Linked DNA regions of Homo sapiens: regions 1, 2 and 4 are each linked to region 3. The links come from fine-mapping of genetic effects on gene expression. A gene starts in region 3. Each other region holds a variant in brackets. All regions are shown on one strand. Distances are between the middles of the regions.

Region 1 (8,100 bases), 23 kb before region 3:
CCTGTAATCCAAGCACTTTGGTAGGCCAAGGCAGGGGGATTGCTTGAGCCTAGGAGTTCAAGACCAGCCTGGCCAACATAGCAAAACCCTCATCTCTACAAAAAATACAAAAATCAGGAGGCTGAGGTTGGGGTACTGCTTGAGCCCAGGAGGCAGAGGTTGCTGTGAGCCAAGATGTGCCTCTGCACTCAACCCTGGGCAACAGAGTGAGACCCTGCCTCAAAAAAACCAAAGGCCGCTGTGGTATGAGCCCTGGGTTTATGTGTCAGAGTTTCTATCTTCCCTCACTACAAACTTAATTAAGAACTATTTCTGCTGTTAGGTTACTTGGATAGGCTGGATTTTTCTTCCTAAATCATAGATGAGGGTCTTCTGGGTCTGTGGGACCAAGGTTACCTTCTCCTTTATTGTTGATCAGTAAGATCCCAGTCTCCTGTCACATGCAAGGACTCTTCAGGAACCTTGTCCCGTCCCCAGAAACATCTGGAGACTTTTGGACATGGCAGCTCCTGGGTCCCACTGCTTGCCTCCCTCAGCTCACAGCTGGTATTACTAGCTCTGTGTGGACAGGGAGGCTGCAGAGGGACGGGGAGGAGAGCTGCAGGGAGGCCTCTTAGGGCCCTGGATTCCTTGGCCTCTGTCCTGAGGTGTGAGCTCAATGGTCAGGAGTCACAGAGACATACTTTGCTGCTGGGGAACAGAGGGAGCACATACCTGTTGTCCCATGTTGCCTGTGTATGAATAAGGCCCAGGAATCTCCTCAGCTTTGTGTCCTTACTGCCATTTGACCTTTTATAACAGATTCAGCCAGACACAATCATACAGGTGTGGCGAGAGGATATTCCAGTGAACTATATGAAGGAGCTGGAACTGGTCACCAAGGCCGGCTTCCGGGCCCTTCTCTCTGCCCCCTGGTACCTGAACCGTATATCCTATGGCCCTGACTGGAAGGATTTCTACATAGTGGAACCCCTGGCATTTGAAGGTGAAAGCAGAGAGCTCTCCTTGCTAACCAAAGGAGGCTGGGTTGGGGCACAGGATGGGAGGCAGGAAGGTCTGGGCCAGACATTTCCAGTTAGTAAATGAAACAACTTAGCTGGGGTGAGGGCCACATTGGGAAGGTGGTTGAGAGGGACCCTGGAGTTACCCCACCATCACCAGACTGTTGTTGCTTGTTTTCCCTCAGGTACCCCTGAGCAGAAGGCTCTGGTGATTGGTGGAGAGGCTTGTATGTGGGGAGAATATGTGGACAACACAAACCTGGTCCCCAGGCTCTGGTAAGGGTTTTCGGGGGGGAGGTGGAGGGTTGGGCCTGAGAGCAGGAGTTCTCCCTTAGAGACCCAATCCCATCTAGCCACCTCTGGACTAGTACCCTTCTTTCAGGCCTGAGAGAGAGCAGGCCGTGCAACGAGCCTTCTGAAGATTTGTGTGCAATATTCACTCTCCACATGACTTCCGTCTATATCCCTCCAGCTGCCCTTTGGTATGTGGGATAGGGATTGTTAACCTTACTTCCCAGAGAGATAATGAGGCCTGGAGAACATAGGTGAGTTGCTCAAGACCCAGCACAAGCATCCATGATTCCTGTAATAAGGCTTCCCTCTGCTGTTTTCACTGCAGCCTTACCAAGTATGGTTGGGTGTGCAAAGTTTACATTTTAAGGACCTCTGCTGCTGCCACTGTCATTGTGGTTAATGATGGCTTTAAGGTTTATTCTTATTCCCATATCTTTGAGAGAGGAAGAGAGTGGGATTGCTACCCACATTTTAATGAAGGTGGAGCTGAGCCGTAGAACTCTCTGGGAGCCATCCAACCTGGCTGTGGCTCATAACAAGGTATTGATCACTTCCTTTGGCCTGAGTGAGTCCAGGGTGCCTAGACAAGAGGTAGCAGCCTGTGGATGTCCAGCACCTTTGCAGGGAATACAGGGCCCAATCTGGCACATGCCCCTTTTCCTCCAGGCCCAGAGCAGGGGCTGTTGCCGAAAGGCTGTGGAGCAACAAGTTGACATCTGACCTGACATTTGCCTATGAACGTTTGTCACACTTCCGCTGTGAATTGCTGAGGTAAGCAAGCTGTGGGGCCTTCGCAAGGCGGAGCAGGCCAGATCCAGGGCTGGGGAACCCCTTAGAGAGAGGAAGACAATAATTAACAATAGCTAACACTTACAGAGGCTTATAGTCAGCCCTCATCCACGGATTCAACCAACTGCGATAAAAAGTATTCAGGAAAAAAAAAATACAACAAAAAATGGTACAAATAAAAAATACTGTATAACAACTATTTACATAGCATTTATATTGTATTAGGTATAAGTAATCTAAGATCATTTCAAGTATATGGGAAGTTGTACATTGGTTATATGCAAATACTATGTCATTTTTATATAAGGGACTTGAGCATCCTTGGATTTTGGTATCCACGGGGGTCCTGAAACAAATCCCCTGTGGATACTGAGGGACAACTGTATTTTGTGGCAAACACTGTGCTAAGTTTGTTACAAATATTGTCTCATTTAGTCTTCACCACAGCCCCATGAGACAGGTGCATTTTAGAGATAGACACTGAAGCACAGAGTTCAGGACCTTGCCCAAAGTCACTAAGAAGCAGGATTTGAACCAGGCTGACTTACAGGATGTCATGACACCTTTGCCTCTGTCAGGGATGTGCCTGTGTAAGATAGTCATTTCCCTGATTCCTTCGTTGGCTAGGTCTTGAGTACTTGGGGGACATAGCCTAGTGCAGAGCAGAGTCCTGGGCTGAGAGTCAAGCATGATGGTGTCTAAGCCTCAATTATGTCATTCACTGGGTAACTTCCAGCTGGTTCTCTAAGCATGTTGCTTACTTGGATGATAAGGGAAGCATGCCTAGAGGTCCCCTAAGGAGATTGGTCAGGTTATAGACTGAGACCCAAGGACAGGATTTCGCATCCATGTTCATGGACAGGACAGCACCTAAGTCCCCCAGTGCCACCATATTTACAGCATTTTAGAGTCAGGAACAGAGGGCTAAGTAGACCAAGAGCATTGGCTGCCTTTCAGACATCCATCTATATTCTAAAGGGATTGAGTTATTTGGGGTTAGGGTACAGAGATGGGCAGGATATAAATAGATGTCGCCAACGTTTCTGGATCTCCAAGACCTGTATCAGAATCACCTGAGGCACCTGTTCAGCTTGCAGATTCTTGCCAATACTTTGCCCCACCCCAGGTGAGAATCTCTGGAATTGAGATTCCCAGGTGCATTTGGTGTACAGTGACAGTTTGAGAGTCACCGAAATGGGGAAGGAGAGACTGTTGACTGGTGTGAAAAGTGTTGCTGGGGCCCCTTCTGAGGGGCTTATCTTGCCATTTCTTCATGTCCTCTTGCAGGCGAGGTGTCCAGGCCCAACCCCTCAATGTAGGCTTCTGTGAGCAGGAGTTTGAACAGACCTGAGCCCCAGGCACCGAGGAGGGTGCTGGCTGTAGGTGAATGGTAGTGGAGCCAGGCTTCCACTGCATCCTGGCCAGG[G/A]GACGGAGCCCCTTGCCTTCGTGCCCCTTGCCTGCGTGCCCCTGTGCTTGGAGAGAAAGGGGCCGGTGCTGGCGCTCGCATTCAATAAAGAGTAATGTGGCATTTTTCTATAATAAACATGGATTACCTGTGTTTAAAAAAAAAAGTGTGAATGGCGTTAGGGTAAGGGCACAGCCAGGCTGGAGTCAGTGTCTGCCCCTGAGGTCTTTTAAGTTGAGGGCTGGGAATGAAACCTATAGCCTTTGTGCTGTTCTGCCTTGCCTGTGAGCTATGTCACTCCCCTCCCACTCCTGACCATATTCCAGACACCTGCCCTAATCCTCAGCCTGCTCACTTCACTTCTGCATTATATCTCCAAGGCGTTGGTATATGGAAAAAGATGTAGGGGCTTGGAGGTGTTCTGGACAGTGGGGAGGGCTCCAGACCCAACCTGGTCACAGAAGAGCCTCTCCCCCATGCATACTCATCCACCTCCCTCCCCTAGAGCTATTCTCCTTTGGGTTTCTTGCTGCTTCAATTTTATACAACCATTATTTAAATATTATTAAACACATATTGTTCTCTAGGCACTGTGGTAGTGGGTTTTTTTGTTGTTTTTGTTTTTGAGACTGTCTCAAAAACTCTGTCGCCCAGGCTGACAGTGCAGTGGCACAATCTTGGCTCACTGCAGCCTCTGCCTCCTGGGTTCAAGCGATTCTCGTGCATCAGCCTCCTGAGTAACTGGAATTAATAGGCACGTGCCACCATGTCCATCTAATTCATATATATATATTTTTTTTTTCTGAGACGGAGTCTCACTGTCACACAGGCTGGAGTGCAGTGGCACGATCTCGACTCACTGCAAGCTCCACCTCCTGGGTTCACGCCATTCTCCTGCCTCAGCCTCCCCAGTAGCTGGGACTACAGGCGCCCGCCACCACGCCCGGCTAATTTTTTGTATTTTTAGTAGAGATGGGGTTTCTCCGTGTTAGCCAGGATGGTCTCGATCTCCTGACCTCGTGATCCGCCCGCCTTGGCCTCCCAAAGTGCTGGGATTACAGGCGTGAGCCACCGCGCCCGGCCGAATTCATCTATTTTTAGTAGAGATGGGGTTTCACTATATTGGCCAGGCTGGTCTTGAACTCATGACCTCAGATGTTCACTTGTCTTGGCCTCCCAAAGTGCTGGGATTAGAGGCGTGAGCCACCGCACGCGGGCCTGTGGTAAATTGTTGAATTTGAAGGACTCAGAGGCCCTGGTCAATTCCAAAATAACGTAGGCGACTTCCATCCCCCTCCTCCCAACCATTTTCAGCCCAAAGCATCTTCGCAGGGAATGGATGGCTGCGCGGAGGTGGGCGGTGGCTCTGGAGAGGGTCTTTGCAGGTGTGATTTTCTCTAGAAGGAAATGTCTCGTCGTGGACCCAGACTGCCCCCTCCTGGTTTCAGATGCAGAAGTGATACTGTAAGCCAGAGGCGGGGGCAGTAATGCATCGCAGCCATTTTAGGTGAGGATTTCCTTGGCGGTTATTTGTTAAGTTCTTTGGCTGGGCCCTGGGCTGGGGTAACAATGGACAGGTTCCAGGCATTTTTTTCAGAAAGCTTCCAGTGTAGTGGATACAGAAACTTCAGGAAGGCAGGGCTGAGAAGGATCTGAGTAAAACTCGGTCCTTCAACACCATCCTTCAGCCCCTGGGTCATGTTCCTTCGAGGTCCTGGTGGGAGGTAGACAAGCCTAGCCTTGTGCTGTTCCTGTAAGGACAGGGTGGGCATTTTCTACCAACAGAATTCTTGGAATTTTCACACAGCCCAGCCTAGCCAAGTCCAGGGCTATAGCCCAGATACACAAGTTAAGGTCCCAGCACTGGCACCCACCACAGGAGCCCCCTTACCTCTATTACCCAGAAGCTTGTAGGAGGGGTGGTCCGCAGACAAGGACCCTGCACAGGTGCGACCCTGCTTCCCTCCTGGTCATAACTTTCATGTTACTATTGCTTGGGATAATGTTAAGTAAAAATAGCAGACACTGAGTTTTAAGTCTCAAGTGGATGAAGGCAGAGATCGTGATACACTTGAGTTAAAGCAGTAGGGTTCTGTCATTTTCTATTCCTGTTGTAAACATTTTCTTTAATGTTATTATTTTTACCACTAAACTAACGTGGCCTGGTCACGACTTTCATTGGTAAAGTGTGCTGTTCCTCACCCTCCACCGTTGCTCCTTTGGTCCACTGATCATAAGAGCATTTACCTGAAGGTCGTCAGACCTCGAATGCCAACAGGTCAACTGCAGTGGCCTGCAGTTACCACCCAGTCTGTTCCAATGAACAGAATCGCTGTTGCCCCAACTCATCTCCCTTCACCTAGGCTGTAAATTGAAAGTCCCACCCCTGAGCGGAACACAGGCCATCTTGTGTGCTGTGCACCACCAGGGGGTGGGGAAGTTTCCAGACTGACTTCCTGGCTCCAGTCATCCTAGGAAAAGAGTTCTCCAGTCGCTCCCCACCCCCACCCCTTCCCATTCCAGGAGTCTATTAAGGAGGCAAAGCAGGCCTAACGGGTATCAAAGCAAAGGAGTGAATGGAGACTGGGAGAGTCTTCAACCTCTCCTCTCCTTGGTAGGAGCTGAGGCTGCATGCCAGGTACCTTCCCTTCGAGGAATCTAATAAAGCTAGGTCACTGGTGTTTTCAGGTGCTTCTCAAAGGATTGCCGTAGGGGTAGGATATCAGGATGTGGGAGCACAGGTGCCACCACAGCACTAGTGATGGAGAGTCATTGCCCCTAGACTTCTGGGACAGTGAGACTGTGAGGAAAGCTGAAATGATACTGGGAAAGGGTGAAAGAAAGGATGTAGGTGGAATTTATTTAGTATTAATGTAGGTACACATACCTTATGGCAACATTCCTAGCACTCTAAATTCTAGATTTGTATAGTTTCTGTCAATATCTTTTGTAAGCTTAATCAATACAGGGCATGACAAGTATGTGTCACATACTTTTTTTTCCACGAAGAAAAAAAATAAGTAGGAATTGGGTGCTTTGTTTATCAAAATTTGTATTTCCTTTATAAATAAACTTTGAAATAAAGGTTGAAAATTAGTATCTTTTCTAGCCGAGCCACCATTGTTTTTAAAAATCCTCTTTGAAGCAGGTGTGTGTGTGTGTGTGTGTGTGTGTGTGTGTGACGTTTTTCAACAAAATTTTTAAAAATCGAAATGTCAGGGTCAGGTGCAGTGGCTCATGCCTCTAATTCCAGCACTTTGGGAGGCCGATGTGGGAGGATTGCCTGAGCTCAGGAGTTAAAGACCACCCTGGGCAACATGGTGAGACCTGATTTCTACTAAAAATTAAAAAGATTAGCTAAGAATGGTGGTGTGTGGTTGTAGTCCCAGCTACTCAGGAGGCTGAGAAAGAAGGATCACTTCAGCCTGGAAGATTGAGGCTGCAATGAGTCATGATCACACCACTGAACTCCAGCCTCAGCAACAGGGTGAGACCATGTTTCAAAAAAAAGAAAAAAATTTAAATGTCCAGGAACCTTGCTTTTTTCACAGTAATTACTGTACTCTAACCACACCCATGTTTAGTCTAAACTATCCCAGTAAATACTCCTATTTTTTAGTGATTTCAAATGTTTCAAACAACAGAAAAGTCTAGAAAATAGTAAACAGTGTAACCACCCAGCTTTGTTGCATCTCAGTAGTCATATTTGCTTCAGATTTGTTTTTTTTAAACAAAAAAGATGAAACATTATTAATATCCCCCTTCCCAATGCTATTCCCTTCTCCAAAAACAACTGTTTTCCAGAATTTCTTTTTAATCTTATTTCCTCTGGAGAATCTGATACTTAGCTGTGATTTTTTTCATCACTTAATAAATTCTTTATGGCTCACTCTTTATAGCAAATTAGAAAGAGATGTTTTGGAAGCCACTCAAAAAAGGGAGTGTGTGTGGGAAAGGAGGAAGAGCAGCTGGCAGGCAGACACAGATGGGAAGGGGTGCCATGCTCGCTGGTGTGCTGCAGAGTGTGTGAGTGAGAGCGTGTGTCTGAGTGTCTGGATGATCTATTATGAAAGAGGATATTTGAACATAGGAACTCAACTGCTGGTGTTTATCTAGACTCACATGAGTCAGAAATCTGAATGAAGATAGATGTGGAGATCCAGCTAGGAGAACAAAAGTGCTTCGTCATTTTTATGTGCTTGCTGTGTCAGGCACTTTTGTTGTTTTTTTTTTTTTTTTCTTTTCTTTTTGAGATGGAGTTTTGCTCTTGTCACCCAGGCTGGAATACAGTGGTGCAATCTGGGCTCACTGCAACCTCCACCTCCCGAGTTCAAGCAATTCTCCTGCCTCAGCCTCCCAAGTAGCTGGGACTACAGGCATGTGCCACCACACCCTGCTAATTTTTGTATTTTTAGTAGAGACGGGGTTTTACCATGTTGGCCAGGCTGGTCTCAAACTCCTGACCTCAGGTGATCTGCCCACCTTGGCCTCCCAAAGTGCTGGGATTACAGGCTGAGCCACCAAGCCCGACCTGTCAGGCACTATTATAAGCACTTTACTGGATGTTAATGTATTTAATCCTCATCCCAACCAATGTGCTATCAATATTAT
Region 2 (8,103 bases), 150 kb after region 3:
TTGGGAGTGACTGCCTGGTGTGGGTATTTGGAGCCTGGGGGAGGTGTGCAGAGCAGAATGCCTGTGTCAGGTGCACCACGAGGCCCCTAGACTCCTGTGTATCTGGGCTCCCACTCATTGCCCCCTCCTCTCCTGCCCTGTCTCCCCATTCTTGACATCTCCCTGTGCTGGTGCCATCCCTGCCCTCTGGCAGCTTCTCAGGCTGGGGAGCTCCCTACCTGCCTCATGATGTGAAAAGCTCAGGGAGTATTTTTTGCTGCATGGGGCTGGAGAGCAGGCAGACACCTCCTGTGCCCTCTAGGGAGGGGCCTTCCTGCCTTCAGACCATGCTCAGCCAGGGGAAGGGCCTCATCGGAGGATTTCCAATCTTTTGTACCTCCTTTAATGTCAAAACACTGCCACTCCCCTGCTCCATACCTCTCCTGACAGAAATTAGGTAGTTTTTTATGGCTTCCAGGACTCCTGACATGAATTCCACAGCTGGGGCATGGGGATGGGACGGGACTGGATGGGACAGAGCGGGAGGAGATGTGGTTCACAACCCACAGGGCATGAACACCTAGCGCGACAAAAAGTCTGTGAGTAGAGTCTACAGCGGCTGCCTGCAGGGTGGGGGACCAGGCTGAGCCCTGTGCTCTTGAAGCCTCCTTCTTGGCCCTCTGGGTCAGGGCCCAGCTGGTCACTGGGTGTCCCCTGCCTGAGTGGTTCTGCTGGTGAGTGCTCAGTGACCAGTCTGCCCTGTACTTCTTCAGGTGGCACTACTCCCATTTCTTTATTTTCATTCGTCAAAATAAACACTACAGGGGAGAAGACACCACTATTGAGTGGAAAGTGAACTGAAGATCGTTTTGAGAGCGCGGCAGGTTTACTCATTTTGGCCATAGGCAGGGTCTCTGAGCCAAGAGCATTATCAGCAGAGAGACAGGAGGAACTGGCTTCAGTGGGCAAACAGAAAGGAATGGCTTGCAACCATCCTCTTGATCATGTGTAAAGGAGTTGGCTTTTTTTTTTTTTTTTTTTTTTTTAGACAGAATTTCACTCTCGTCGCCCAGGCTGGACTGGAGTGCAATGGTGTGATCTCGGCTCACTGAAACCTCCACCTCCCGGGTTCAAGCGACTTTGCTGCCTCAGCCCCTTGAGTAGCTGGGATTACAGATGCCCGCCACCATGCCCAGCTAATTTATATATTTTTAGTAGAGATCGGGTTTCACCATGTTGGCCAGGCTGGTCTTGAACTCCTGACCTCAGGTGATCCACCTGCCTCAGCCTCCCAAAGTGCTGGGCTTACAGGCATAAGCCACTACACCTGGCCAGGAGTTGGCTTTTAATTTAAAGAGACTTGAAAGTTGGCCGGGTTTGGTGGCTGAGCCTGGTCTGAAGGCAGGAAAGCTCCTCCCTGGAGTTGTCGTGAGCGCCTGCTGCATGCTCAGCACTGGACTCAGGGGATTCAATGAAGGACCAGGCAGAGTCTGTGAGCCCCTGGAGATGCACAGTCATGGCACACAGACACAGTGTGACAGATGCTGAGCAGAGACTTCCGATCAGGGTGCTGTGAGTGAGTATCTGAAGCAGGGACTACTCACCTAGGCTGGGGGAGGGCTGAGGGAAGGCTTCTCTCCCTGAGACAGTCACATTTGAACCTAAGGATGTGTTTGGTTTAGAATCCATGCAAAGACATGGTTATCTATGCAAGATTAGATAATCCATGCAAGATTATAATTATACCCAGTTTCTAAGGCTCAGCTTCCTTTTCTCTAGGAACCCCACTGTATTTCAGTTCCCAGGGATCTGTGCATCCTCTGAGCTCCTGCAGTCCTGAGAATTTGACTCACATTCTCAAGCAACAGGCTCCCTGCCTCTGAAAGCACTGTCCAAGCTCCTTCCCATTGTCATCCCGTTCTATCCCTCATCCATCCTTCAGTCTGGGATGCAGGTTCTTCAGAGCTGAGCCCACAGAATTTTTCCCTGGCGGCCCCATGGATTCACTGCCAGGCCCACGCTGTAATGGCTCAGTGGTCTGACTTGCATATCTACTCCCCCCAGGCCTGTCCTGTGAGAGGACTGAGACCAAGCGAGAAACATACATGGAAGAAATAGATGGAATCTCCCATGCAGTAATTACACACAGGCACAGCAGAAATACCACAGACAAAAGAGAAACGACAAACTGGGGAAAACATCACAAAAATGATAAACTAAGGATTAACGTTCTCAATAAAGAATTTACAGGCCAGGTATGGTGGCTCACACCTGTAATCCCAGCACTTTGGAGAGGCCAAGGCAGGTGAATCACCTGAGATCAGGAGTTCAAGACCAGACTGGTCAACATGATGAAACCCCATCTCTGCTAAAAAATTTATATATATATAAATAAATTAGCCAGATGTGATGGCAGGTACCTGTAATCCCAGCTACTCGGGAGGCTGAGGCATGAGAATCACTTGAACCTGGGAGGCGGAGGTTGCAGTGAGCTGAGATCACACCACTGCACTCCAGCTTGGGTGACAGAGCAAGACTCTGTCTCCAAAAAAAAAAAAAAAGGCTAGGCATGGTGGCTCACACCTGTAATCCCAGCACTTTGGGAAGCTGAGGTGGGACGATTGAGCTCAGGAGTTTAGGACCAGCCTGGACAACACAGTGAGACCCCCGCTGTCTACAAAAAAAATGAAAACCTTAGCCCGGCATGGTGGAGCATTCCTGTAGTCCCAGCTACTTGGGAAGCTGAGGTGGGAGGATCACATGAGCTCGGGAGGCTGAGGCTGCAGTGAACCAAGATTGCGCCACTGTACTGTAGCCTGGGCGACAGAGTGAAACCCTGTCTCAAAAAAAAAAAGGCCGGGCGTGGTGGCTCATGCCTGTAATCCCAGCACTCTGGGAGGCCAAGGCAGGGGGATTATAAGGTCAGGAGTTCGAGACTAGCTTGGCCAATATGGTGAAACCCCCGTCTCTACTAAAAAATACAAAAATTAGGCACAGTGACACACGCCTGTAGTCCCAGCTACTTGGGAGGCTGAGGCAGGAGAATTGCTGGAACCCAGGAGGTGGAGGTTTCAGTGAGCCAAGATCACGCCACTGGACTCCAGCCTGGGCGACAGAGAGAGACTCCATCTCAAAAAAAAAAAATAAAAAAGCCAGAAAAAATTTATACAAATGAAGAAAGAACTTCAATACAAATGAAGAAAGAATTTCACCTGTGAATTCTCTATAAGACAATGAACTTCCAGTGGTTAATAATTATTTGGAAAAAACTGTTCAACCTACCAGTAAGCAGAAATACAAATGAAGACAACGTATTTTCACCTATCAGATTTGCAAAGGTGAGCGAGAGACAATATCCAGAGAAGGGCATGAATATGGGGAAACAGGCACCTTCATGTCGTGCTGATGGCTGGGTTAACTGGAACAGCATCTGTTCATTCTCAATCCACTAATTTCACTTCTGAGAATCTATCTTAGGAATGGACAGTGAGTGACATGGGAAATTTCTCATGAAATCAGGTTAAGCCACAGAAGTAGGGTATACAAATTATAGATTATATAACCATTTACATAGGTTATATGTTTATCATACATTTTTTATTTGGGTGATTTTTGGGGAATCTTTAGGTGATTTTGATCTTATATATATTTTTCATATTTTCTATAATCTTTAAAAATCAAGGGAAAAAAAAAAACCTCTGTGAAATGTGACATGATGGAACCAAATAAATCCAGAAATCAACTTTGAGAGTCAAATCTCTAGCAAAATCTGTCACTTCACAAGACTGTTGTAGGTATATGTTGATATGTGTGGCAAAATCCTCTCTAAGGTTGAGGACAGAGGTAACCAGGCCACATGGCCATGGCTGGGCTGATTTTGTGGGTGAGGTCACTGGCTGTTCACTGTAGGACCGGACACAGCCTGTCCCTTGGCAGGTCTCAGTTTCATAATCTGTACAATGGTATGGTGGGAGCGGGTGAGGCTGAATCAATCTCTGAGGGTCCTGGCAGATCTTGGGCTGAGGCGAAAACTCTGTTCTTGAAGAAGAGAACTTTGGCTGGCCTCAGTCACAGAGCGGAGGGTGACTGAGCATTGAGATTTGTAGGTTCCAGGCTCCAGCTCCTAATCTGCAGCAGGACCACTGCACGTGACCTTGTTACCTGTTCCTGACCACCACACTGCCCCAGCACGGCCCTGCTTCTTGGCCACCCTCTCTTTCTTGGTCAGCCCCTGGGCCCACTTGGTTGGGGCTGGCTTGACGGCTCAGGCTTTATTGATGTGTAGCCTGGAGGAGCAGGAACAGGGTAATGATTCTTTGGAGCGATTAGTGGAGGCAGGAACTCAAAGGCCATTGGAGAGCCCGACCTGCCCAGGGAGAGAGGATCTGTTCCCTCCTACGCTCTCCCTCAGGGACATTTTTGAGATGGTTTGGCTCTCATCATCAAGCTGTCCTGACTGTCCAAGGTGGCTGAGGCCACTTCCTGGTAT[A/G]AGACGGCTCCTCCCCTCCTGGCCACACTCACCTGTAGGCTGATGGGCGTCCACCTCCCACACCTTCAGCGCATCAGCTCCTGAGCTTTGATAAGGCCTCCTGTGCTCAGCCTACTTTCCCGGAACCTGATGGTTTACAGTCATGCTGCGCGGGTACTTTGGACACTTTTGTTCTCGGCATAAGCGAGTCTCAGGGTCCTCCCTCTCAGTGTGCCTCCTCAAGGGTGGGGCTAGAGGCCTCACTCAGCCTGGCCTACGAGCTGCCTGGCACTGGAGATGAGGTAGACAGGTTGATTTTCCTCCCAGCCTAGGCATAAGCAGAACTTCTGGCTTTCGGGAAAGACGCTGTGTGAGACCCGCCTACTCCGTCAGCCATCCCAGAACCTCTGCCTGCGCTGCTGCCTCTGAACTGTGACATTTTCAGTGTCACCCTCAATATCAGGGCCAGTCTTGGGTGGGGGCCAGAGGCAGCGGCCATGGGCATGGTGGGGCTGTTAGGGAAAGGTGTCCTCATGAAGCCCCCTTCCTGATATGGGCCTGTTTTTCCCTAGCAACCAACAAATGCACAGAAAGACAGCTTCTCTGAACAGTCCTGTGTCCTGCAAAGAGAAACCAGACAGAGTTGAGGAGCCCCCGGACTACAGGTGAGGACCCCTTTCCCAGTCATAGATACACACAGACTAGAGGGTGGGAAGCCCTCAGGAAGTGACCTGTTTGTAAGAGGACCTCAAGGCAGAGCCGGGGCCCCTTTGCAGGTCTGTGAGGTCAGGCACAGGCTGCCCCAGGCTTCTTCCTCCCGCCCCTCAAGACTGTCCCAGTGCACTGGGACCTAGCAGAGTCCATGCTTCTCGGGTTTCCAGCCTCCTCCCTGCTCACCTGTGCTCTGGGCCAACCTGGCCAAGGCAAAGGTTTACCTTTTTTTCTCAGTGCCATCCCCCTCTCCCAGTGTGGTAGCCTCAGCCAGGTCAGGTGAGTCTGTGCCAAGCTCCCCGCAGCAGAGCTCAGGCCACAGGAAGGAGGCGGCAGGGAGGGCAGTCCTGCTGGCATCATGGCCTGTGGCCAGGCCCCGGCGCTGTGAGTCTGACACCTTCACCTCACCCACACCCCAAACTGTCCCTATTCCAGCACTGCCTGCTCCCCTGCTTACCCCTTGGCCAGAGAAATGGGACAGGGTCTTTGACACCCAGGTGGGAAGCTCCTCAGCATCTCTGGGAGACCAGGCGCACCTCCAGGAGATGCTGCTCACCCGCACTGGGGAAGGTGGGCCCTTGGCGACCCCTCTCTACCTCCCGCAGTGCCCTCCCCCAGGGATGAGCTGTATAGTTTAGCTGTGTGCTCGCTGTACTTGTCATTTTGCTGTGTCCCCTAGAGAAGGGTCCTAGTCTCTGATCTCTGCCTCAAGCTTCTGGCTCAAGGCCAGGGCAGAATTGGCACTGAGGATGCATGGGCAGGACTGGGGTTCCTTGTTCCCGAAATGGAATGTCTCCTTTGCAGTCTGCACTGGCCAGAAGGCTTGAAGGGTGAAGAGATAAAGAAGTGTGGCCGAGAAGGGGTAAGTCTGGAGGCTGACTTCTCACTATTCACCCAGGAAGGGGTCCTGGGCTGCCAGAATTCAGTGACTTTTGGCTCCTTGGCCACCGGGCCTGTCATCAGGAAATCAGGAGACCTGAGTGTGTATCCCTTCCTGGGTGGGAGTAGTGTGTCCCCCTCTGCTAGTACAAGCTGCCTGTCAGGACCTAGCAGCACCAGGAGACAAGCTGTGCTTGGCACACAGCCCTCCATACTCACTGGCTGCTTACTAGCTGCCTCATGCTAAGTCCCCAGCATGGGCCGGGGGGCTGTGGCATTTCCTGTTGGCTGGAGCAGGGCCCCTTTGGCGGTCTCATCTCCCAGCGCTTCTCAGACGCAGCCTGTGTGTTTGCAGATAACACTGAATAAATACAACCAGCAATACCACAAGCTGTTTAAGGATGTTCCCTTGGAGGAAGTGGTTCTCAAAGGTGAGCTGTCTCCCGGTATAGCTGGTTAGGCACCCAGAGTGCCTGGGGCCAGGGGCCTCTGCTCTGGAGCCTCCAAAGCACGACTTAGAAATGGGAACTGGCTGTCCTTTAGATGTGGACCACTCCCCTAGAATGTGAGAAGACTGGGCTGGTGAGAAGACTGGGCTGGTTTGGACATAGCATTGCATTTTTGAAGGTTTTCTTGGGGAAACGTCAGGGCTTTGGAATCTTGTGTCCTGCTCTTACTGGTGACTTCTTACCTGCTCTGGCCTCTCACTGAGCAGGTGGGGGCATTTGCACAATCAAGGCCCTTGGGGCAGAGCAGAGCAGGGAAAGGTCAGGGATTCTGCCTGAGGTGGTGAGAATGCAGGCTTGGAGATCAGGGCAGGAACTTGCCTGGACCCTCTGGAGCAAGGGTGGAGAAGGAAGAAACATCCAGCAGGCTGGTGGAGTGGAGGAGCAGTCAGGAGAAGGACCCTTCGACGCTGGGGAATGGACTGTTTGGGGTTTGGGGCCTGCGGTGGGGAAGGGGGAGTCTGAGGAAGACAGGTCCTGAGGCTGGACTGTGGACTCCAGAACGTGAGGACCCAGGTCCTGGGGCTTCCTGGGCTGACCTTGCTTATGGCCATTTTCTCTCCTGTGACATCCTAGTGTGTTCCTGTGCCCTCCAGAGGGACTTCCTCCTCCAGGGCCGGCTCTACATCTCCCCCAACTGGCTCTGCTTCCATGCCAGCCTCTTTGGCAAGGATATCAAGGTAGTAATGAGTGGTGAGGGCTGCCATGACCCTGTGAGGGGAGCCAGCCTCCTGCCCCACGGGCATGCCTCAAAGTCATGCCTATCTCTCTGCGTGCTGGGCCCCGGGTGAAGCCCCTTGCTGGTTGGATGCGCAGCTTCGAGGCATCCCATCCAGTGTCCAGGAAAGTAGTCCTGCCCCTTCAAAAACAGGGGCCCAATCTGGACCCCACATCTGGCCTGAGCTGGCCTGAACAGTTCACAGCCAAATCATTCTGCCTCTGGGTATTTCAGAAATGCTTTGAGAATCAGAGTGGGATATCACATTTAGGCGGAGCCCTAGCTGTGGCCAAGAAGTAGCCTGGGGAGCTCCATTACTAGAGTATGAGATTTACCAGAGCCACCATCCTTGGCCTCCTGGATAACAGGGATCATACCTATGTGACAGCCAAGAGTGACACATCCTGCCAAGGCTGGGGCAGGGTGGCAGGGACAACTGGAAGGGGAGCCTGGATGAAAAGGTAGAAGGTTCAGAGACTTCCCCACATGGGGCCAGGCTTCCCCATGGTGGCCATGCTGGGCTCACAGCTGGGTCCCTAGGCAGGGAGCAAAGGGACCACGTCCTTGGGGGTTAGTCCTGAGAGAAGCATCCCTCTCCCTCTCAGGTGGTCATTCCTGTGGTGTCTGTGCAAATGATCAAAAAACACAAGATGGCACGGCTCCTTCCCAATGGACTGGCCATCACCACCAACACCAGCCAGAAGGTCAGTGCACTGGGCCCATGCTCCCTTGTCAGTCTCCCGCTCCCAGCCCTGACAGCCCACAGTCTGACTCGGGCACATTCCCAGGTCTTTATTTCACCCCACCCTGCAGCTCTCCAGTAGGTATTTCAGGCCGTACAA
Region 3 (8,103 bases):
TGGACTGTCAGAAAGGGAGAAAAAACAACTGAAAGAAGGAAAATGTGGGTAAATGCGATAGACTTTAATGCTTCTGAAGTTTTTTATAAATGCTGATTGTATATCATTGTCTAAAGTGGTTCTGAAATATATAGAGGAAATACTTAAGGTAATTATAAATGAGGGAGGATAAAGGGACTTAATAGTAGGTAAGGTTTCTACACTTCACTCAAACTGGCAAAATGTCAATACCGGTACACTGTGATAAGCTATGTATGTATAGAATAAGAAACACTTTATCAACAAGAGCACAGGAAAAATAAAACAGAAATGAACCAGGTGTAGTGGCTCATGCCTGTAATAATAGCTACTTGGGAGGCTAAAGTGGAAGGATTGCTTGAGGCCAGGAGTTTGAGACCATTCTGGGCAACATAGCAAGACCCCATCTCTAAAAAAACAAAACAAAACAAAACAAAAAAACAAGAAGAAAGATAAAGAAAAGAGAAATGAAGAACATAGGCAACAAAAAGAAAACAAAAAATTAAGTGACAGACTTAAGCCCTAACATACCAATAATTACATTAAATGTAAATGTAAATTACAGGCTCACACCTGTAATACCAATAATTACATTAAATGTAAATGGTCTAAATATGTCAACTAAGACAAAGATTAGTAGAGTGGACTTTAAAAAAATGACCCAATTATATGCTGTCTAAAATAAACTCACTTAAATACAGCTATATACGTAGCTTGAAAGTAAAAGGATAGAAAAAGGTATATTTTGCAAAGATTAATCAAAAGAAAACATAAATGGCTATATTAATATCAAAGTAGCTCTCCACACAAAAAGCTTACCAAGAACAGAGTGACATTGCATAATAATAAAAGTATCAATTCATCAAGGCATCACAGTTTTTAATGTTTATGCCCCAAATGACAGAGCTACAGAATATGTGAAGCAAAAACTAATGGAACTGAAAGGAGAAATAGACAAATCCACAATTACAATTGAAGTCTTCAACACCTTTCTCTCAACAATTGATAAAACAACTAGACAAAATCAGCAAGCATATAGGGCCAGGCACTGTGGCTCTCACTTGTAATCCCAGCACTTTGGGAGGCTGAGGTGGGCAGATCACTTGAGGTCAGGAGGTCAAGACCAGCCTGGCCAACATGGTGAAACCGCTTCTCTACTAAAAATACAAGGTTGGGCACAGTGGCTCACACCTTTAATCCCAGCACTTTGGGAGGCCAAGGGGAGCGGATCACTTGAGGTCAGGAGTTTGAGACCAGCCTGGCCAACATGGTGAGACCCCATCTCTACTAAAAATACAAAAAAAATAGCTGAGTGTGGTGGCAGGCGCCTGTAGTCCCAGGCTTGGGACTGAGGGTAGCAAAACAAACCTCAACAAATGCAAAAGAATTGAGGCCAGGCTCAGTGGCTCACACCTGTAATCCCAGCACTTTGGGAGGCTGAGGCAGGCGGATCACCTGAGGTCAGGAGTTGGAGACCAGACTGGACTACATGGTGAAACCCCATCTCTACTAAAAGTACAAAAATTAGCCGGGCATGGTGGCGGGTGCCTGCAATCCCAGCTACTCAGGAGGCTGAGGCAGGAGAATTGCTTGAACCCGGGAAGCAGAGGTTGCAGTGAGCCAAGATCACGCCACTGCACTCCAGCCTGGGTGACAAAAGCGAGACTCCATCTCAAAAAAAAAAAAATTGAAATTATACACAGTGTGTTCTGACCACAATGGACTCAAACTAGAAATCAATAACAGAAAAATAATAGGCAAACCTCCAAACACTTAGAAACTAAACAATACATTTATAAATAATATATGGATCAAAGAGGAAGCCTCAAGGAAATTTTTTACTGTATTTTTCTTTTTCTGCAGAGAACTTTGTTCTGATTTTTGAATTGTTTTACTACTTTTGGGGTGAAAATTTTAAAAAATACATAGGACTGGGCCAGGCATGGTGGCTCACACCTGTAATCCCAGCACTTTGGGAGGCCTAGGCAAGCAGATCACGAGCTCGGGAGATCGAGACCATCCTGGCTAACATGGTGAAACGCCATCTCTACTAAAAATACAAAAAAAATTAGCTGGGCGTAGTGGCGGGCAACCGTAGTCCCAGCTACTCGGGAGGCTGAGGCAGGAGAATGGCGTGAACCCGGGAAGCGGAGCTTGCAGTGAGCTGAGATCGGGCCAGTGCACTCCAACCTGGGCGACAGAGCAAGACTCCATCTCAAAAAAAAAAAAAAAAAAAAAACTACATAGGACTGAATGAAAATGAAATTCCAGTAACCCATTTCGTGGTCAACTTATTACAAGGAGTAACTTTCTGTTAAAGGAGAAAAATAATTTATTTTATTTATTTATTCATTTAGTAAAAATGGGGTTTTGCCATATTGGCCAGGCTGGTCTCAAACTCCTGATCTCAAGCAATCCACCCACCTCGGCCTCCTGAAGTGCTGGGATTACTGGTGTGAGCCACCGCATCCCGCCAGAAAAATGATTTTTGAAAATCATAATTTGCTGCTGCATTTTTTTTTTTTTTTTGAGATGGAATCTCACTCTGTCACCCAGGCTGGAGTGCAGTGACACGATCTTGGCTCATTGCAACCTCCACCTCGTGGGTTCAAACGATTCTCCTGCTTCAGCCTCCAGAGTAGGAGGAGCCCGCCACCATGCCTGGCTAATTTTTGTATTTTTAGTAGAGACGGGATATTGTCATGTTGGCCAGGCTGGTCTTGAACTCCTGACCTCAAGTGATCTGCCCGCCTTGGCCTCCCAAAGTGCTGGGATTACAGGTGTGAGTCACCATGCTCAGCCAGAAAAATAAATCATTTAAAAATCATGATTTGCTTCTGAATTGAATATTGTTTTAAGAACTTTTTGATGATTCCAGTTGCTACTGCTGGTCTCCAGCAGTTTCTTAGAATAGTCAATGGACACAAGTTATGTTAAAATCTCTATTAGGCCAGGTGCAGTGGCACACTCCTGTAATCCCAGCACTCTGGGGCACCGAGGTGGGTGGATCACTTGAGCTCAGGAGTGTTCTAGACAAGCCTGGGCAGAATGGTGAAACCACCATCTCTACAAAAAAAAAAAAAGAAAAAAAATTATCCAGGCATGGTAGCGTGCACCTGTCATCCCAGCTACTTGGGAGGCTTAGGTGGGAGGATCGCTTGAACCCAGGAGGTTGAGGCTGCAGTGATCTTAGATCGCACCACTGCACTACAGCCTGGGTGACAGAATGATAACCTATCAAAAAAAAAAAAAGGAAATCTCTATTAAAATAATTAGCAATTTTACTGAAAGAGGCATGAAAAATATATTATGGAATAAATATATAATTTATGAAGTATGTGTCTTTGTCCAAACATTGTATTACTACTTTGTGCAAACATCACTGATCCATCAAGAGAATACCTAGACATGTGCAGGAGTAATAAAATTCCATCAGCTCTGATATTTTGCCAACTTTCAGTCATATAGAAAGCGTAGCTGTACATATGTCTTTCATTTTCGTAATTCTGAACCTGTATTTGTGAAAATAAGAGGGGAACATATTTAACAAATTGTAATTTGATTTGTATCTTTTAAATGTTTAGATGCACAGTATGTCGATTTCCATTTCTTATTTTGCGCTGGGCCCAACAAATGTTGGGGTGGGCCTGGCCCTAACATCCTCGACCCTCAGAACCTCAGCTTCCTTTTCCGGAAAAAGAGAACACTCCTGAGTTCACAGAACTGGGATGAACTGGGCACCTGGTGCATAATGGGTTCTGAGTAAATACGGCTAAGTTCCCTCACTCTCCTAAGGAGGAATCCGTGTTCAAGGAGTGTTTAAGGGGTTTTTATTTTATTCTTCCTTTCTTTTTAAGGCTGCAAGGGAGACGAATGTGTCTGAGGCTCAGGGGTAAGAAAGTGGTTAAAGACACCGAAGACAGAGATGTGTGATGGGGCGGGGTGGGATTGGCTCCGAGGGACTGGCTCGATAGTGGGAATAGAGAAGAGGAATCCCCATCCACCCCCGCAGGAAACGCACCAGCGTTTGGAGGTGTGTGTGCCTGCGTGTGCCTGCGTTTGCCTGTGTGTGCCTGTGTGTGCGGTGGGGATTAGCCCCGACTCCGGCAGACACCATCACGCATGACGAAGCTGCTTCCCCTCACGCGGCCCAAGGCGCACACGCGCGATCCACGGCCACGCCCGCACACACTCGACACACACAGGGCATTCGAGGGTCCGGTTGCCATGGCGAGCAGGAGCGCGTGAGCCCAGCCGCCCCCCCCGCCCCCGGCGAGCCCAGTCAACTCCCACTCTGATTGGCGGCTGCTTCCTCATTATGCAAATCATTTGCGTAGACTCGGCGGCCAGCTGCCTGACGTCACCAAGCACGGGGGCTGGGGCTCGGGGCTCGGCTCTGGGAGAGCTCGGGCGGGAGCCCAGAGAGAGCCGCACGGGGACCTCAAGCCAGACCCCAGCGTTCAGCCGCCACCTCGGCCCGGGCCCGCCCCGCCCCGGCCCCGCCCCTTTCCTGCCCGCCCCACCCCCTCTACGCCCCTCCACCCGGACCCCGCCCCCTGGGCAGCCCCCCGCCCTCTCCGCCCGGGCTCCGCCCCCTCCCCCTGGCCCTCGCCACCGGTCCAGGGAGGGGACGGCGGGACAGGCGGGACCAGTGGGACCGGCGGGAGGGCTGACAGGGCGGGGACATGGCCGCGGCGCCGGGAGGGTCAGCGCAGCCCGCTGGCCCCGGCCCGCGCCTGGGTTTCAGCACCGCGGACAGCGGCGTCGGCATGAGCGGGCTAAACCCCGGTCCCGCCGTACCCATGAAGGACCACGACGCCATCAAGCTCTTCGTGGGGCAGATCCCGCGGGGCTTGGACGAGCAGGACCTCAAGCCGCTGTTCGAGGAGTTCGGCCGCATCTACGAGCTGACGGTGCTGAAGGACCGGCTCACCGGCCTCCACAAAGGTGCGCGGGGTCAGCCCAGCCCAGCCCAGCCCCAATCCGATTAGAGTGTGGCCCGACCCCAGCCCAGCCCCAGCCCTAGCCCTGCCGAGAGCCAGTCCAACACCAGTCCAATATCAGCCCCACCTCAGCCCAGCCCCCTTCCCAGATCACAGAATTTTCTCTCTGACATCCTCCCTCTGATTATCACTGTGGTCCCCTAACATGTTCTCCACTCTAACCTCCAAATTCCTGGCCTCCACCTCTCACATCCCAGCAGTCCCTGCCTTTCAATTGGACCTTTCCACCACCTCTCCCATCAGACCTAAAATTCTGGAATTTGAAAACTTATTCCACCTTCTAGATCTCGAATACCCTCAATTTCCCAAACCCTGAGCCCAAACACTCCTGAATCCTCCATCTGGTGGCACCTCACTCAGGCCTAACCACCCACATGCATATCTTGGACTTGCACCCCTCCTCTGGCCTCCTAGTCCGGCCATCCCCCTCAAGAGCCTTCTTTTGACTCTCAGACTGCCAACCTAAAACACCGCAGACCCAAACCCTCCCCTTCTTCAGAACCCAGACCTGTCTAACACAAAATCCAATTCAATTCCCAGGAGGCTCTCAGTTCCAGACACCCCCTCATGTTCAACAACAGCCCCAATCTCTCCTGCCCTTCGCCAGAATCCCAATGCACTCTACCTCTTTTGATTTCAGTTCAGAACCCTGACCTCAGCTGGGAACTCCTGCCACCCTGTGTCCCTTTCTTCTTGGATTTCTCTCAGCTAAATCCACACTTCTTTCCTTCTCTAATCCCCTCACTCCTGTGCCTCTTCTTTGCTCCTCCCCAGTCCTCTTTATGGCCTCTTTCTTTCCCTCCCCTCACAGGCTGGTCCCAGTCCAGGCCCATTCTCAGGGTGAGTCAGGCTGAAGAGACAGAAGGAGATCTTCTCCCTGCCCTTTCTAGAGAGATACACGGTCCTGTTCGGCCACACCCCTTTCTTCCTGTAGAGAGAGGGAGGAGGCTTGTTTACATGCAGAAAAGTCTGTCCAGGCAGGGCTGGAGTAAGAGAGCCAGAGTCACATGTCATACATGGGCAGGAGAAGGGGAGATGATTTGAGAAGGAACACTCTTATCTCCTCCCCCACCACCACCACCATGCTGTGCTTTCAAGTTTTTGCTGGGAAAGAGTCACCAACTATCCTCCATGATCTTCCTAAGAGAGGAGTGGTGGGCCTTGGGTAACAGCTAAAGGTACATTCCTAAGGACTGAGAGCTGGAATCAGACTGCCACCTCTTCAACTTGGAGGCCTCGTAGGGTTCCTTGGCACACTAATGTAGGCACTTCGAGAAAATGCCAATAGAAGAGCTAGGACCATCTGGCTAGGAGTACAGCTTCCACCCTTTGGGCTGGGATTGTGTTAATGGGTGTATGAAAGGACAATACCTCACCATCTAGAGTCCTTCTAATGCACTCCCACTACCTGCCTGTCTGTCCATCCCTCTGTAGTAACTCATTTTCTTATTTTTAGACATTGATTTCAGGATGTACATACAAAGCTAATCTTTGTAGGCCATCCGTACAATAAGGGAAGTGTATAGAATACCCTTAAATCTCACTCTTCTCACTATCAGTCTCTGAACTGTTCCCTCATCCTCTCTCTTTTCATTTAGCTCTAATTCTGCCTGTTATTTTCATTCATCTGTCTCTCAAACCATGCTTCTCTGTCTTTTCTTCCCTTCATTCTTCCACCCTCTATCCCGGCTAGTCCACATGGGGCTTCTTTAGGCAGCAACTGGGCCCCTGAGCCTTTCAGACAGGCAACCTGCCCGGTTTGGACGTCAGGTGATATGGGTTGGTAGCAAAACACAGAGCAGGGATGTAAGTGGAATCAGGTGTTTGGTGATTTATTTCCAAACTAAATCACAACTCTCCAAGGCAAGTGTTGCCTTCCAAGATGATTGTAGAGGGTCTCCAAGTCAACATCTTCCTCATCCTCTCCCCAGAAACAGTGACTCATTTTCCTTTTGATGTCTGGGTACCGAGGCAGGCAGCCACAGTGCTTTGAAAACAACCCCAGCTTGGGAGTTAAGACATTCCAAATCCTGCCCTGCCACTGACCCACTCTCTGGGCTTCAGTTTCCCTGTTGATGTGATAAGAGTTTTGCTCAGTTCTCTAAGTTCCCTTTAACTCAATGAATGTCCGGCAATAAACCCATCTTAATGGGGCAGCCCTGTAGAAGAGGCCAGAAAAAAATGTTCCCATTTGCCTTTCTAATCTGCTGAGGTCTAAGTGGAAATCTGCCCCAAGTTCCTAATGGCTCACCATATCCACTTTCTCCTCCTTCAGTCCTTCTCCCTCCTACACTCAGAATGCTCCTTTTGAAAACAGATCTTATCATCTCACAGATCTGCTTAAAACCCTTTAAAGTGGCTCTCTATTGCTCTTAGGAAAAAGTTCAAAATCCAACTGAGGCCCACAAGGCTACATATGACTTGATTCCTGCATATCTCACTAGCCACTCTGCCCCCATACACCAGCCTCCAGCCACACTAACCTATCCATTTCCCCAACACACCAAATTCTTGATTCAGTCTTCATATATGCTTTTCCCTCTGTCTGAAATAATCACTGTCCTTTTCATCACCTGATTGTTAAGGACTCAGTGTTCTTGTTCTCGAGGACTCAGTGCCTTCTTTGAGACATTACTCAACCCTTTGGACTTGTTTAGGGGTCCCTCATGATTTGTCTAATCCCCATGAGGGCAGGGAATGTGTGTCTTGTTGCCACTCTATCTCCAAGGTCATCAAAATGCCCCACCATAATAAGTAAGTGTTCAATAAATATTTTCTGAATGAATGAGTGCTCAGTGGCTGTTGGAAAGGAGGAGAGTGCTGCTTCAGTGCTTCCTAGCAGGCTACAGGTCCTGAGGCTGAACAAACAGAGGGCTAAACTTGACCCTTTGGCTCAACCTAGACCTCTTCGCTGACCCATATATGCTGGCCCTTTTAGAGGAGCCAGATTTGAGGCACAATAACTCTTTAAGAGGCCCTACCTCAAAGCCCTAGGAGGGTTGACAGATCAAGATCCTTGAACAGGATTAGGGGGTCCCTGGAAACTCCCACCTATGGGAAGCCCTTAAACCAATCCCATCTT
Region 4 (8,103 bases), 350 kb before region 3:
TCTCAGCTCACTGCAACCTCTGCCTCCTTGGTTCAAGCGATTCTCCTGCCTCAGCCTCCCTAGTAGCTGGGGCTACAGGAGTGTGCCACCATGCCCGGCTAATTTTTTGTATTTTTAGTAAAGATGAGGTTTCACCATGTTAACGAGGCTGCTCTCAAACTCCTGATTTTAGGTGATCTGCCCACCTCGAAAGTCCTAGGATTACAGGCGTGAGCCACTACGCCTGGCTGCCCTCTTTCTTTCCTTCTTTTTTTTTTCTTTTTTCTTTTCCCTCCTTCCTTCCTTCCTTTTCTTTTTCTTTCTTTTCTTTTCTATTTTTGAGACAAAGTCTCTTGCTCTGTCACCCAGGCTGAAATGCAGTGGCACAATCATGGCTCATTGTAGCCTCGAATTCCTAGGCTCAAACGATCCTCCTACCTCAGACTCCTGAGTAGCTGGGACTACAGGCATGCGCCACCATGCTCAGCTAATTTTTTATTTTTTGTAGAGATGGGGTTTTGCCATATTGCCCAGGCTGGTCTCAAACTCCAAGGCTTAAGTGATCCTCCTGCCTTGACCTCCCAAAGTGTTGGGATTACAGGCGCGAACCACTGCACCTGATCAGATTATTTCTCTCACCATGTTGCTCTAATTTCTCTATGTTTTAATTGGCTGCCCCCAGGAATCTCTTTTTCTCCAACTAGTGAGCTCCGTCTGTTGAAAATTATAGAAACTAGGGCTAGGCGTAGTGGCTCACGCCTCTAATTCCAGCACTTTGGGAGCACAAGGTAGGAGGATCACTTGTGTCCAGGAGTTTGAGACCAGCATGGGCAATATATCCAGACCCCATCTCTACAAACTTAAAATACAAAAAAATTAGCCAGGCATGGTGGCACACTCCTGCATTCCTAGCTACTTGGGAGGCTAAGGCAGGAGGATCACTTGAGCCCAGGACGTCAAGACCACAGTGAGTTTTGATCATGCCACCAAACTCCAGCCTGGGTGACAGAGTGAGAACCTGTCTAAAAAAAAAAGAAAAGAAAATTAGGGAAGCTGTTCTAGTGGATCCCAGGCTTATATTCCAACTTTACCAAAAATTCCCTCTGTGAGTGACACAAGTTATTTCCTTTCTCAGCACTTCAGTTTTCCTCTGTGTAATATGTGACTATTGGACTCTGATATTCACCAACCTTTGTAGCTTAAGTGTTTTAGAAATCCAGGATTCTATGAGTACCTCTTCCCTCTTGTAACTCCTGTCCAGTGCAGTCAGTGTGCTCTGAATAAGATGCAGGGATAGAGTCTTTTAGCAAAGCAAAGAGGGAAAATAATGAGTTGAGGAAAATAATGACACAGGGAAAGTCAGAGAGAAGAGGCACTTGAGAAAGAAGTCAATCAGAGCAAGAATGCAAAAGAAAATAAGAGGAGAAAAAGGGGACACAGACCATATATCAACAAGGAAAAGTATTCTTTTCTCCCATACAGCTCTGTTTCTTCCCTACCAGCTCCAGATCCCTATTTTTAATTTTTATTTACTTTTATATGTTCTATTTATTATTTTATTTTTTTTTAATTTTTAGAGATACAGTCTTGCCCTGTTGCCCAGGCTGGAGTGCAGTGGCATGATCATGGCTCACTGCAGCCTCAACTTCTGGATGCTCAATTGATCCTCTTGCCTCAGCCTCTTGAGTAGTTGAGATCACAGGCATGCATTACCATGCCTGGCTAATTTTTTCATTTTTTATAGATACAGAATCTCGCTATATTGCCCAGGCTGGTCTTGAACTCCTAGGTTCAAGTGATCCTCTTGCCTCAGCTTTCCAAGGTGCTGGGATTATAGGTGTTAGCCACCATGCCCACCTACCAGACCCCCTATTTACATGCAGTCTCTTTCCCAAACAGAACATTATTCCCTTGCAGTCTTGCTGTTGTTGCCCACCCAGGCTGGAGGGCAGTGGTGTGATCTCAGCTCACTGCAACCTCCGCCTCCGGGGTTCAAGCGATTCTCCTGCCTCAGCCTCTTGTGTAGCTCCTGAGTAGTGTGCCACCATGCCCGGCTAATTTTTGTATTTTTAGTAGAGATGGGCTTTCACCATGTTGCCCAGGCTGGTCTCAAACTCCTGGCCTCAAGTGATCTGCTTGCCTCGGCCTCCCAAAGTGCTGGGATTATAGGTGTGAGCCACCACCCCTGGCCTCTTCTTACTTTTTCTTATGAGATAATTGTAGATTCACCTGCAGTCATAAGAAATAATAGACAGATCACATATACCCTTTCTACAGTTATCCCATGGTAACATCTTCCAAAACTATTGTGTAATATCACAGCCAGAATGTTAACATTGATACAGTCCACCAATCTGATTTAGACTTCCCCACTTTTACTTCATTTGTGTGTATTTAGTTCTGTGCAGTTTTGTCACGCGTGTAGGTTTTCCTATCTGTCACCATAGTCAACATACGAAGAGTTCCATCACCATAAGCCTCCCTGTCATTACCCTTTAATAAACATATACCTCCTTCCCACCACCTCCCCATTCCTAACCCCTGCAGCCACTAATCTATTCTCCATTTCTATAATTTTGTCCTTTCCAAGTTGTTATATCAAATAACATTATATAAAACATGTAGGCTGGGCATGGTGGCTCACACCTGTAATCCCAGCACTTTGGCAGGCTAAGGCAGGCAGATCATGAGGTCAGGAGTTCGAGACCAGCCTGGCCAATATGGTGAAACCCCGTCTCTACTAAAAATACAAATATGAAAATTAGCCTGGCATGGTGGCATGTTCCTGTAATCCCAGCTACTTGGAAGGCTGAAGCAGGAGAATTGCTTTAACTGGGACCAGGGAGGCAGAGGTTTCAGTGAGCCAAGGTTGCACCACTGCACTCCAGCCTGGGCTACAGAGCAAGACTCCTTCTCAAAAAAAAAAAAAAACAAAGGATTTTCTCCTGCAGCTGTGGCCTAGGCATGGCGACTCTCGGCTTTGTGACTCCGGAGGCCCCCTTTGAATCATCGAAGCCCCCCATCTTTGAGGGGCTTAGCCCCACTGTTTACAGCAATCCAGAGGGTTTCAAGGAAAAGTTCCTTCGCAAGACCCGCGAGAATCCGGTGGTACCCATAGGTTTCCTGTGCACGGCGGCCGTCCTCACCAACGGCCTCT[A/G]CTGCTTCCACCAGGGCAACAGCCAATGTTCACGGCTTATGATGCACACCCAGATCGCCGCCCAGGGCTTCACCATTGCAGCCATCTTGCTGGGTCTAGCTGCCACCGCTATGAAGTCTCCACCCTGAGCCCAGGGTCTTGAAAACTCTGCAGAAATCATTCCAAAACCCAGGAGCAACCACTGGCCCTACCATGGGACTTACTCTCTCCTCTCCTTTGAGAGGTCCCTGTGTCGTTGGGGGAGGAAGTGACCCTTCCTGTAACCATAACTGAAAGATTTTTTCAAAAATCCCAGATTCTGTTGTTTGAATGTTACATATTTCTATTTGTGCCACATCTTCCCTCCACTCCCCTGCTTAATAAACTCTAAAAATAAGAAAAAAGTAAAAAATTACACACATACTGTATGTAATCTTTTAGGATTGCTTTTATGAGCTAGGCATATTTGTATGGGAAGGGGGAATTTTTTTTTTCTTTTTTGAGATGGGCTGCACTTGTCGCCCAGGCTGGAGTGCAACTTCGGCCCTGTTGCCCAGGCCGAAGTGCAATGGCACAATGTCGGCTCACTGCAACCTCTGCCTCCCAGATTCAAGCAATTCTCCTGCCTCAGTCTCCCGAGTAGCTGGGATTACAGATACGCGCCATCACGCCCGGCTAATTTTTTGTATCTTTAGTAGAGACGGGGTTTCACCATGTTGGCCAGGATGATCTCAAACTCCTGACCTCGTGATTAGCCTGCCTTGGCCTCCCTAAGTGCTGGGATTACAGGCATGAGCCACCGCACCTGGCCAGGAAATTTTTTAAGATACGGAAAAGTACAGAGCATGATCTTGCAAACAACTATGTTCCTACCACAGAATCAACACTGACTGTTGTTAATATTTTGTTATATTTGCTTCATTTTTTTTTAAAAGGGAGACAAGGTCTCACTCTGTCACCCAGGCTGGAGTGCAGGTGCAGTGGCACTAGCATAGCTCACTGCAGCCTCGACATCCTGGGCTGACATGATTTTCTTGCCTTAGCCTCCCTAGTAGCTGGGACTAGAGGCACAGGCTACCATACATGGCTAATTGTTTTAAAGTTTTTGTAGAGATGGAGTCTTGCTCGGTGGCCCAGGCTGGTCTCAAATTCCTGAGCTCAAATGATCCTCCCACCTTAGCCAAAGCACTAGGGTTACAGGCATGAGCTACTGTGACTGGCTGTCTTTTTCATTATTATTATATAAAGGAAAGAATGTATTATAAAGTTGAAATCCCTTCTAATCCTCATCCTTACTTCTATTAGTCATAAGCAGCTACTAGTATGAATATGGTCTCCTTCCTTCCTTCCCTCTTTCTTTGTTTCTTTCTTTCTTTCTTTGTTTCTTTCTTTCTCTCTCTCTCTCTCTCCTTCCTTCCTTCCTTCTTTCCTTCCTTCCTTCCTTCCTTCCTTCCTTCCTTTCTTTCTTCCTTTTTCAGACAGAGTTTTGTTCTTGTCGCCCAGGCTGGAGTGCAATGGCACGATCTCAGCTCACTGCAGCCTCCACCTCCCAGGTTCAAGCTATTCTCCTGCCTCAGCCTCCCAAGTAGCTGGGATTACAGTCACTCACCACCATGCCCAGCTAATTTTTGTATTTTTAGTAGAGACGGGGTTTCACCATGTTGGCCAGGCTGGTCTCGAACTGCTGACCTCAGATGATCCACCCGCCTCGGCCTCCCAAAGTGCTGGGATTACAGGCAGGAGCCACTGCATCCTGCCTGTCTGTGGTATATTATGCTCTATACACTTTGATTTCTATTATTATTATTATTTTTGAGATGGAGTTTACTTTTATTGCCCAGGATGGAGTGCAATGGCATGATCTCGGCTCACTGCAACCTCCACCTCCTGAGTTCAAGCAATTCTCCTGCCTCAGCCTCCCAAGTAGATGGAATTACAGGCATGCGCCACCATGCCCGGCTAATTTTGCATTTTTAGTACACATAGGGTTTCTCCATGTTGGTCAGGCTGGTCTCAAACTCCCAACCTCAGGTGATCCACCCGCCTCAGCCTCCCAAAGTGCTGGGATTACAGGTGTGAGCCACCGCACCTGGCCTGATTTCTATTATTTCACATAATTTTTACAACAAATCTGTAAAACGAGGTTTCCATTTACAGATCAGGAAACTAAGAGCCTTGAAATGATTTTCTCAGTGGTAGGTGGTAGTGGTAGGTTAGAACTGGCAAACAAGCTTATGGTTTGATGTTTACCCACTAGCACTACCTCCTTCAAAGCTGATCACAAATCATGATAGTGAAAGAAGCTTTGAAACTACGGATCTCTAACTCCCTTTTATACGACTGGAAGGGACCTTAATTAAGACCCTTCTATTTACAGAGGAGGAAACTGAAGCCCAGAGATACCAAGAGTTGGCCCAGGTCACACCTTGGTGATTGTGGAAGGACTAAGAGAACAAGCCTGACTCTGACTCCCCGCCCTTTCTCCATCCCACCTCTTGCTGCCCCAGCCAGGAGCCTAGATCTCAGAATGCAGTCAGAAAAATCCCTCACTGAGAAATATTAAGACTAGAATGCTAAGAAGAAATGTTAACAGTTCCATAGAAAATGACAAAAAGCATGCATATATAATTTATGAAAAAAGAGAACAAAGTTTTTTTTGGAAAGTTTGACTTAACCATTGCCAAGTAAGAACTGCAAATTAAAGGAAAAACCATTTGAACTCAGTTGACAATGACTTTTTTAAAGCTAATACTCATTGTTTTGAGGTGTGGGCTTTGTTGCATGACTGAAAGACACTCTTGTAGCTGGTAGAAGTAAAACTATTACAGTCTTTCAAGAAAGCAGTTGAGTATTGTGTATTTAAGACCTTAAAAATATTTAAGGCTTTGATCTAACAATCTGAATTCTAGGGAAGTTTTCAAAGATAATCAGGCATGTGGCCAAAGAATGTTACATGCAACATTATTTATAATATTGAAAAATTGATCATCTTATTATGTCCCAAGTACAATGGTTTAATAAATCAGTGTAAATTTATATGATGTGACGTTATGCAGCTGTTAAAATCATAGCTTGGAATATTATTTGATAACCTGGGAAAAGGCTTATGATATATTAGGTGAAAAGGAGATTTCAAAACTAAATAATCTGATTTTAAAATTATTAGTAGTAGTGCACTGAGAAATGGGTTGGAAGGGAATCAGTTAGAGGCTATCAATCATTTCTGGATAGTCAGTCTTGGAACATGCCCTGCTCTTAATAAGGTGTGCACTTTTATTTGTTGCTCAAATAAGCAAATGAATAAATTGTGGGATGATGAATAATTTAAATTTTCTTCTCCATAGGTTTTGGAATTTCCCAAATTTTATGAGAATATTTTTATTATCATAAAAATTAACCAGGCAGGGTGCGGTGGCTCATGCCTGTAATCCTAGCACTTTGCGAGGCTGAGGTGGGTGGATTGCCTAAACTCAGGAGTTTGAGACCAGCCTGGGCCACACAGTCAAACCCCGTCTCTACTAAAATACAAAAAAAAATTAGCCGGGCGTGGCAGTGTACGCCTGTAGTCCCAGCTACTCGGGAGGCTGAGGCAGGAGAATTTCTTGAACCTGTGAGGCAGAGGTTGCAGTGAGCCAAGATTGCGTCACTGCACTCCAGCCTGGGCAACAGAGCAAGACTCCGTCTCAAAAAAAAAAAAAAAAATAGGCTGGGCACAGTGGCTCACGCCTGTAATCCCAGCACTTTGGGAGGCTGAGGCAGGTGGATCACCTGAGGTTGAGAGTTCAAGACCAGCCTGATCAACATGAAGAAACCCTATCTATTTAAAAAATACAAAATTAGCCAGGCGTGGTGGTGCATGCCTGTAATCCTAGCTACTCAGGAGGCTGAGGCATGAGAATCGCTTGAACCCAGGAGGCGGAGGTTGCAGTGAGCTGAGATCGCACCATTGTACTCCAGCCTGGGCAACAAGAGTCAAACTCCATCTCAAAAAAAAAAAAATTATGAAAACTTACAGCATGTTGACACTAACTGAACAAGATAGAAAAAAAACAACTAGTATTTTTTGTTCAATATCCTTCATTTTTACCACTTTCCAAAAGTTTAGAATACTGAAACTCAATGTTGCCTTATTTCTAAAGCTGCCAAACCTTTTGTCATTTCTGGACTTCAGTTCCCTCCTTTGTAAATAGAAGGAATTTAATTAAGGTCTCTTCTAGCCTTAAAAAGAGTAGTTATAAATTCATTCCTCCTCAGTGATCCTGGTTGATAGAATTCTTCCTTTATCAAAAGCCTCTGCTAAAGAGCACCCTCAAAGTTAAAGTCATTGTAAAAAACTCTCCCCGGTTTTGCAGAGACTTTTTTTGTTTTGCTGCATGACTTTCAGACAAGCACTAGACTTGTGTCATTTCCATATGAACAGACACATGTTTTCCGGAGGGCAGGCTGTAGTTAGGGCTGTGTCTCTGCTACTGTGTCTCTGCATAACCCAACGGGCTTGCATGAGAATAGGACTTTTCATCTCATTTCCATTGGTTTCATACATTAAGCAAGTCAATTCACATGTGCTACAGGTCACAGTGGGAACTCTCCATGTAAGGCTATAAGTGGTTCAGCTCAACCCATTTCTTATTTCTGAAAACAACTTGAAGCATGCAGCCTATGGCTGGAAGGCAATTGAGTTATATTTATAGAAGGGCAGCTTGATCTCTTTGCATGATATCCTGTCTTTAGAAAGTAAAAAATAAGTTGCTATGTGTCATCATCGCGTATAGGCAACTAGATGCAGAAATTTAAAAAGAACAGATCTCTTTACTGAGACCCAAATACATCCCTGACATCGCCCCTCCAAAGTGCACCACCTCCAGTGAGTCTCCCTGTCATGCCCAGCCAGTGGACAGCCAACCCCCACCATTCCTCCAGCACTCCCGTGGCCAATCATGGGGGTGCTGTGCTGGCAGCCTGTGACCTGACATCTCTACCAGTCTTCC

The links.
Region 1: its variant is fine-mapped to the expression of CELF6 in whole blood (TOPMed, PIP above 0.99).
Region 2: its variant is fine-mapped to the expression of CELF6 in whole blood (TOPMed, PIP 0.99).
Region 4: its variant is fine-mapped to the expression of CELF6 in whole blood (TOPMed, PIP above 0.99).

What each region holds. Positions count from the first base shown.
Region 1 is chr15:72,339,412-72,347,511 of GRCh38, reverse strand. HEXA (hexosaminidase subunit alpha) reads left to right here. Exons shown (of 14, transcript NM_000520.6): 11 at 802-985; 12 at 1,187-1,277; 13 at 1,962-2,066; 14 at 3,372-6,588. The coding sequence ends at 3,435. Among named protein-coding and RNA genes, the nearest start is that of CELF6, 23 kb to the right of the region's middle. RefSeq lists an enhancer at 4,655-5,154. The variant G/A (reference allele first, on the strand shown) is at 3,511.
Region 2 is chr15:72,166,856-72,174,958 of GRCh38, reverse strand. It overlaps GRAMD2A (GRAM domain containing 2A), which reads left to right. Exons shown (of 12, transcript NM_001012642.3): 2 at 5,020-5,112; 3 at 5,963-6,020; 4 at 6,393-6,468; 5 at 7,120-7,223; 6 at 7,867-7,965. It overlaps LOC124903522 (a long non-coding RNA gene), which reads right to left. Exons shown (of 3, transcript XR_007064706.1): 3 at 3,558-5,067. Among named protein-coding and RNA genes, the nearest start is that of GRAMD2A, 27 kb to the left of the region's middle. RefSeq lists an enhancer at 6,257-6,551. The variant A/G (reference allele first, on the strand shown) is at 4,469.
Region 3 is chr15:72,316,475-72,324,577 of GRCh38, reverse strand. It overlaps CELF6 (CUGBP Elav-like family member 6), which reads left to right and starts at 4,421. Exons shown (of 13, transcript NM_052840.5): 1 at 4,421-4,965. The coding sequence starts at 4,704. RefSeq lists silencers at 4,285-4,334, 4,395-4,734.
Region 4 is chr15:72,671,215-72,679,317 of GRCh38, reverse strand. It overlaps HIGD2B (HIG1 hypoxia inducible domain family member 2B), which reads left to right. Exons shown (of 3, transcript NM_001350932.3): 3 at 2,931-3,520. The coding sequence starts at 2,944. The coding sequence ends at 3,264. Among named protein-coding and RNA genes, the nearest start is that of HIGD2B, 11 kb to the left of the region's middle. RefSeq lists an enhancer at 7,583-8,103. The variant A/G (reference allele first, on the strand shown) is at 3,137.